2 linked regions of the Homo sapiens genome follow. The protein of the gene in region 2 interacts with the protein of the main gene of each other region in a pairwise test. Each region holds a gene or a part of one and is shown on either strand. Other genes may lie near its edges. The genes, in order: XAGE2 and FOXP4.

Region 1 (4,313 bases), on a different chromosome or scaffold from region 2:
TATAAACAGTGAGTATCAACTATGTAAGATATCTGAAGTTTGCTGCATGAATAGCATTTTAATAATAACTCAAAGATAATTTTCTGAAAGACTAGATCAATGTATTCCTGGGCTTATGACAAAAACTTACAATTGTGACAACCATATCTTGCTGAGGTAATTTGAAAATTATTTGGTTAAAATTAATTAAAATTATGCTTAGGTCCAAAGGCCCTAAATGTAACTTTTCATAAATAAATCCTATTGAGAATATAGTACCAAAAATAAGAGGAAAAAAAGTCACAGTTTTCCCATGAGAATTCAGGAAATTGAGTGAAAGAAAGTAATGAGTGTTGTTGACAGTCATATTCTGGAAACCTCTTAACCGTGAACTGCTAAAATAATCCATGGTCCAAATTCCGTCAACTTTAGCTTGAAAATGCTATCTGTTGAGGACACAATTTCTGTTTCATGATAATTGTATCATACTTTGAGTTTTCTAATTATAAAAGTATTTAGGCAACTTTTAAAAGTTCCTTAAAAAGCATACTAATATACCTACCTGTATGCCAGTGTCCTGAACTATCCACCTTTTACCAAACATACTGTCAAAAAATACTGATCAAAGGGAACAGTGGCTGTCATTCATTGAGCCCTTTTCCGGATTTGCTATCCTGCTTCACTGAATTTGTTTTCTCCTGAGCCAATACTCAAGTACCTTACAGTACAGACACATTCGAGTATTAAGCGTTTTAAGCAAAATAATTCACGTTTTCTAATAACGTAGATGTTAGGAAGAACACAGACCTTGGAACGTAATATGAATTCTGCCTCCATGACTCAAGCGTTCTTGGTAAGCCTCTATCTCTGAGCAACCATTTCCTTTTTATAAAATAGGGCTAATATCCCTATGCAAATGGGCTTTATTCAGGGTGTTATAAGGTAGGGTGACTTGGCACTCTATATGCTATAAAAGGGTGCTTATAACACTGTGGACACCATGGCTGAGCCAATCATACAGCAACATTCTAAGAAGATCAAATTAATCAAGTGAAATAATGTACATTTTGATACATCAAATTAAACAGTTTCATCTGATTTAGCAAGGGATGTATTTTCAAGCATACAAAATAAATCTTGAAAAAAAGAGAAGATTTATTATATCCAGGGACTGCATGAAGCTGCAAACTATACTCTTCACTTTTCCAGCCTACTTTGAGCAAGTGCTTGAGATCCTTTCCTAATGTTTTCTTTCCTCCTATTACTGGTCATGGCATAAGGCATGATGGACACATAGGCCTCCTTCCCCCTATAGGCATTATTTCTTTCCTTTCCCAGCACCTTGAATCTCAGCTGCACCCTGATCATCTTCTCTCTTCTGATCAGGTGTAGGATTCCGACTTTTAGTGGGTGGTTTCTCTTCTTTAGGCTCTTCATCAGTGGGTTCCTGGGACAAAGGGGAGGCAGTATGTGTGCAGATAAAAAGTTTTGTTAGTAATACATGTCAATAATACAAATATACAGAATACACAGGTATTTCTAATCACAAGTAAGTCTAAAGACACTTCTCCAACACTGTTCCACATACTTATTCTTCACAAAGTTACTCTTCCCAAAGAGAGGTTACTCTAAGACAGTTACCCTCAAAGGCTTTGGAAACCATTTTAATCTATGTTGGGTTGGATGTGTGCAATCTGTTATCAGTAAGCATGAGGAGGAAGTCATGATGGGGAACACAAGATTATCCATGAAGGCAAAATCAGATTGTAATACTCTTGGATTAGTCTTTCCTTCATGAGATGCATGATCATTTTTATCAACATGGAAGACCTTTATCAGTGTATCTATACTAGTTCAACAACACTATCACAAAAGAAATTTCTGCTAATAAAAAACATCAAAATATTAAAGCACTCACAAGCATAGCCCCAATCAGCTCAGGAGGCTGTAAACTTCTTCTTGGCCTAGGCCTATATGTTGATCTTCCTCGCCAACTCATATTTCACTCTGCAAACAGAATACTGTGATTGGGAAAGTGTGTTTGAGAGGATAGCTGTATTTGACCACTTTCATGGCCAAATGTTAAATTTCAGTTTTTAAAAAAGTTTGGAAATAATTTGAAAGTAAGTCCCAGGGCAACTAGAAGTGTGTACATCTTCTGAATCGAATGCTTGCATAGCCACTTAAGTTGGGCAATCTAGCAGAGCAATGTCTTAATGCTCCTGGCAAAAGATACAGGATATTTCTGATGAGATTTGGTTTCACAGTTGGATTCTCCATAGTGGAGACATTTAAGTTTATACAGCTAGAGAATTAAAACTGCAGTGACCACGGCTTTCGTCACACACCCATTTGTTTGGACGATTTCCCTCCCTAAAATCAAGGTTTTGTTGGAAAGCACAGTCCCGCCCATTCGAACCTCCAGGGTGGAGTTGAGAAGTTGTGACACATCACTGGACGCTCCTCGCTGGACATTTCTACCCGGAGCTCTACAGACCTCGGGGTCGCGGTCACCAGCTCATAGCATTCCCACTTCCCAGGCCCCTTTCTTACCGCTTACACAGCCCATTCCTGGGTCCCTACCAAGAAGTCTGGAATCTGTCCCATTGGGAGTTCCAGGCACTTTCGGGACTCAGATACCTCCAACAGCACCCCGAGCATTCACCCTATCTTCATCTGGCTCCCCTTCACTCCGCGGCCCACCTTCCTTATGACCTGGAAGCTTTTTACTCTCTGAGGCCACAGACCACGCCGCCTGACCCTCTGGAAGCCCGCTCACTCCTCCTCACATTCACTCACATTTCAGTTCCTGGGAGGACTGGCCTGCGGACCTATAGGCTGCGTCTCAGTAGGAGAGAAAGAGTCCAGACGGCTGGAACGTGCCCCTCACACTCTCACAGCTCCCCAGCGGTCACCACGTGGGCAAAGGGGTCGAAGGGAAGATGCCCAGTGAACATGCACACTGAGGCAGGTGTCCAAGGAACATGCACACTGAAGTCGGTGCCTGCGTTGTGTGCTGCAGTGCCCCGCCTCGCCCCACCCCATCCCGCGTCATGCAGTCCTCCCTCCCCTCCCTGGTTCCCACTGAGGACTCTGGAATGCATCGTCTGTAAGCAGTTTCATATGCCTCGCGGACTCAAATACCACAAATAGTTTCCCCCTTCAAAACTCACTGCTTGTTTACCTGACCCTCCTCCCATCTATGGTCCTTCTCCCTCCCTTGTCCGGCACCCCCACCACAGCAAGGCCATGGCTGCATCGCTGCGTGTTAGAAGGACGGGGACCTCAAAGCCCTTCCACCTAGGAGGCCATGGATCGTGCCCGCAGGCTCCTCCTCACACTCACTCACACTCAAACTTCTAGGACTACTGAACTGCAGACCTACTGGCTGACTCCTAGTCGGCAAGACAGAAGGAAGTCACGATGTCTCTTTGCACAGCTCTGCTGGGACAGAAGGCAGACAGTAAGGCGCATGGGCAACAAGGGACTTGGGCAGTAAGGGGCGTTCACACTGAGTCAGGCACATGCAAGGCCAGCCAGGGTTTTCCCACTGTCCCAAAACCAGAATCCCCAGTATGTTTGTAGTAGAAAGAAAGGGACTTAAGAGATATTTTTTTTTCTCTCTCTCTTGTCCTACCATTCTCATGCATCCAGAAACTTTGGGAACAGAGAGTCCCATGTCACCCTTAGTGGTTGATGTGTCTCAGAAAGACCTTTTGTGACAGAAATAAATTATTTTAATGTTTATATTTATACATGCTTTTTTTTTCCAGACAGGGTGTTACTTTGTCGCCCTGGATGGAGGGCAATGGCATGACTTTACCTCACTGCAGCCTGGATCTCCTGGGCATAAGCAATACTCAAGACGCAGCCTCCGAAGTAGTTGGGACTACAGGTGTGTGCCACCATGCCCAGCTATTTTATTTATTTATTTACTTAGAGACAGAATCTCACTACATTGTCCAGGCTGGTCTCAATTTCTGGGATCGAGTGATCCTCCCACCTTGGCCAATTTTTATTCATACTTTGATTAATCACTTCCTTCTCTGGTCTGAGGTTTTCTGCCATGCTACCAATGAATAGAACCACTTCTGTAGACTAAATAAATTCACACCTCTTCCTTTTTTAGGTGGTATTATTGCACATTTTAATCTCTGGACTGGTAACTGATTTCCCTGAATATACCTGTAGGTCATTCAGACAGTGTATGGTTCAGAAATATCCATACATATGATGTGGTTTGACTCTGTCCCCACCCAAATCTCTCCTTGAATTGTAGTTCCCATAATCCCCACATGTCATGGAAAGGACCCTGTGGGAGGTAATGTAATCAT
Region 2 (3,813 bases):
GGGGTGTACCCTAGAGAAGGATTGCTTCCCAGAAAGGAGGCAGCACCAGGCTGGAAGGAAGGGATCATTAAAAGGTTATGGAACAATCCACAGCCCCTGCTGAGGTGGGCGTGGGCATGCAGCCCTGGCTGGGCCCTTGGGTGGCTGTTTCTGCAGGACTAATGGTTTAGGGAACTAATTGTTAGGCAGCCTTGGTCTCCATGGGATATGGCAGGTCCAAGGGTGACTGGGGCCCAGAAGGTGGAAGGGGCCTGCTTCACCTTCCAGGTGGCAGTGTTTCTGCGGAAATAGGCGAACATCCTGGTGAACCAGTTATAGATCTCATTCAGGGTCAGCTGCCTGTCAGGGGTTTCCAGGATGGCCTGCGGGGAAGGAACAAGCAAAGGGACCGTCAGCCTGGGCCTCGAAGGGTCACAGCCCTGGGTTCCCTCCCCCAGTACCTCTCCCTTCTGCCTAGCCCCGAGTTCACTTTGTGAGAAGACCTGCTCAGAAATGTGTGGATAACAAGATGGGTGGTGGCTGGTGGGTCCCCTCAGAGGGACAGGCTGGTTATAGCTTGGCCAAGGATAAAGAGGGCAGGAGCCTCCAAGGGCTATGTATTTGTACAAGAAGGATTGGAGCTGCTTCTGGAGAGAAAATGCCTTTAGTACCTGGCCCTGCACCGAGGGTGAAAGCAGTCAGTCCTGTCTTTCTTGGGAGAGATGTCCACGGGGTGGAGGCTGTTTGGAATTTATCCTGATTTTGGCAAAAGGTACCCTAAGCACAGTGTGTGTGTGACAGAAAGAATGTGTGTGAAGGTGTACATGCCTGTGTGGGTATCAGGGAGGACATATGTGTCGATGTAAGTTCATGCTTGAGTGTGAATACTATGTGAACATTGGTGACATGAAGATCATGGGCTTGAGGGAGGAAAGACAAAGGAGAGAGACGAAGAGTGACCCTGAGTCTATCATGGCGGGCTGTGTACGTGGAAATGAGCACATGAATGCCACGGTGGGTGTCAGTAAGAAGAACAGTGTGTGCACCCCCAGAGACACATAACCCTATGCAGCAGGCTGACAGGGCCCAGCCTGCAGGAGAGCCCCGCACAGCAGAGAGGGAAGACCGCCACGTGAGAGGGAGCGGGACAGCTCCATTGCTTGGCCCCAGGACCTTCCTGGAGGCAGGGGTGTGGCGGGGGCTGGGGGAGCAGCCTGTGTGCCATTCCCCACCCTCCTCCTACCTGCCCTGCTCACCTGGCGGATGAGGGAGGCGTAGGTGAAGGGGGGCCGGACGTCGGCGTTCTTGTAGAACTCATGATTCTGGGCCAGCTCTGGGGAGACAGGCAGAGGATGAGGTAGCCAGATATGGGGCTCAGATGGGAAAAACAGCCTCACGCTGCTGTCGCCCTGCAGCCCCCAGCCCACCCTCACCTGAGGAGATGGGGGAGCAGAACTTGTCACTGCTTCTCCGACGGGCTGGGCCCCCACCATGCAGGGAGGCAGAGCCCAGGCCAGGGGGCCGTAGAGGGGTGACAGGGGCTGCGGCCGAGGTCGGGGGGTGCACGAGACCATCTGGGAATGAGTCTGCTGCAGAGACGGTCACCTTGGAGAATGAGGAGGAGCCGGGGACCGGGTTCAGCTGTGAGCAACGGGGAGGGTACTGAGACCAGTGCCCGAGGGTGGGGGTCCCGAGGCTCCAGGGTCTGTGGAAGGCTCTGGGAGGGGCGGGGAGGGGAGCAGCACTCACTGGCTGGCTGAAGGGCTTGGGCTCCGAGGGCCGCATGTGCAGGTGGGCCATCATGGCCTGCAGCCGCTCGCTCTCCTTGGCGAGCTGTGGAGGGTGGCAAAGCAGGAGGTGAGCGGGAGGCTGAACCCTGGAGGCAGTGTTGTCCCACCCCTCCACCGCCAGGCTCTTCAGAAGGCCGCCGATTCCCACCCCCATTCGCCTCCTTGCCTCAGCATCCATGCTCCCTCTGTGACCCGCTCCAGGGAGGCCTCAGCAATGCTCTACCCCTCAAGGGCTGCCAGCTCCATGAAGCCTCTCCCTTTCTCCCCTGGATGGTGACCATTTGAGCCCTCCCAGTGCGTCCTGGCTGGAGCTTATCCCTGCCTCTACATGTTGGGAGGCTTCTTCCTACCCACCCACGGGGGGGCGGCCACTGTGCCTTGTGCAGTGGCACTTGTGTGTGAGGGCCTTGCATACTGAATGCAGATGCAGGAACTGATGAATGGCTCAGACACCCCATTCATAAACTCAATGGGTCTCTCATGACCACCCTCTCACAGCAGGATGCTCTGCTAGGTGCTGGAGGGAGATGGGTAAGCACAGAGGAGCTGCCCTGAGTTGCTTCCTGGGAACCCTGTGCTGCTGAGTGTCCCCTCTCAAGTAGCTGGGATACTCCCTTGGGAAAGCCAGGCTGCCTGGGTTCTAATCCCAGCTCTGCCACTCACAGGCAAGTTACTTTAGCTCTGTGTGCCTGTTTTCTCCATCTGGAAAATGGGGAGAATAATGGTACCCACCACATAAGGTTGTTGAGAGGATTCCTTGAGCTATATAAAGTATTTAGCACAGCACAAAGTAAGTGCTCCATATGTTAGCTGCTAATAATTATTTTTGATGTTTCTATGTAGCGTGAGTCTCTTCTGGACCTCCCAGCAGAGACGCCCCCAACCTTGGTTTACCCCTCAGAATCCAGCTGTCCTCACCTCACAACCATGGTCATTAGGACCTAGAAAGCATAAGATGGTGGCTTTGACCATAGGACCCTTCCATGAGACCCTCCCAACAGAGCCCACCTAGCAAGTCAGTGCTGTGGGTGGGCAGGGGCTGGAGCCCACCATGTCCCTCCCCAGCATCTTCCGGGCCACACCTGGATCTCCAGCTGCTGCACCACCTGCATCTGTACCCGGCACTGGGCTGTACTCCGGTCATCCAGGGCGTGCTCTGTGTTGAGGTGTCTTCAAGGGGAAGAGAGGAGGAGAGAAAGTTGGCTCCGGTTTCCCTGCTGCCACCATCCTCCCATCCTATCCTCTAATCCCACCCATGGCCTGAAAAGCAGACAGACCAAGAGATACAAAGAAGAGAAAGAGGTGGAAAAACGGGGCAATGGAGGAAGGCTTCTCCCTTCTCGTCAGCCTCCTTTGATGTCTTTGCTAAAATCCCAGCTACAGAGAGATCTAATTGCAAATGAACTAATTAAGTAAACCTCTGACGAAGCGTGAAAACAATTTGTTTGACCCTGATGCTGCAAGGGTCTGGGAGACAGCGGAGTTAATCAGTCAGTGACAGAGCCTGGCACGGCTGTGGCAGCTGGCCGCCTGCTGCCAGCCGCCCGTCCACCTCCCGCCCTGCCTGTCTGCGGCCCTCAGCCTGTCACTCGCCATCACTCCCCGGGGCTGAGGCTGGAGGGGAGCAGGGGAGGGTGGGGGGAGGAGTAATGCTTATGTTTGTCCTCTCCTTCTCCTACCCGCACCCTGCGCTGGGGATGGAGTCAGGGGAATGCAGGCCCAGAAATATAGACAGGGTAGGGAGTGGGTGATCAGGGAGTCCGTGGGGGGCAGAGAAAGAACTAGAACCCTCTGGAGTGAGGACAGTAGTACAGCTAGTGAGGAGGGCTCCCAGAAGGGGCAAGCTAGTGGGCAGGGTTGGGGGAGAGGCCCTGTGGGGAAAGGCTGCTGGGGGAGGGGCTGGGGGTGACACCTACTTGATAAACTGGCCCAGGTCTTCACACAGGGTCTCACAGCCTGGCCACTTGCACTCTCCGTGTCCGTACAGGGGGTGGGAGCCGGGGGTCTCCTCGTGGGAAGAGCTGGGAGGACAGCAGGGAGGTGG

The links.
Region 1: the proteins of FOXP4 (region 2) and XAGE2 interact in a two-hybrid assay, tested with the Homo sapiens proteins (one large-scale study listed by BioGRID).

What each region holds. Positions count from the first base shown.
Region 1 is NC_000023.11:52,367,680-52,371,992, reverse strand, and holds the start of XAGE2 (X antigen family member 2), read right to left. Parts: upstream 2,973-4,313; 5' UTR 2,779-2,972; intron 2,001-2,778; exon of another isoform or gene 1,987-2,000; 5' UTR 1,979-1,986; coding exon 1,898-1,978; intron 1,427-1,897; coding exon 1,321-1,426; intron 1-1,320.
Region 2 is NC_000006.12:41,587,770-41,591,582, reverse strand, and holds part of FOXP4 (forkhead box protein P4), read right to left. Parts: intron 3,791-3,813; coding exon 3,686-3,790; intron 2,940-3,685; coding exon 2,852-2,939; intron 2,711-2,851; exon of another isoform or gene 2,688-2,710; intron 1,813-2,687; coding exon 1,729-1,812; intron 1,621-1,728; coding exon 1,413-1,620; intron 1,313-1,412; coding exon 1,236-1,312; intron 363-1,235; coding exon 261-362; intron 1-260. UniProt on the Homo sapiens protein: Transcriptional repressor that represses lung-specific expression.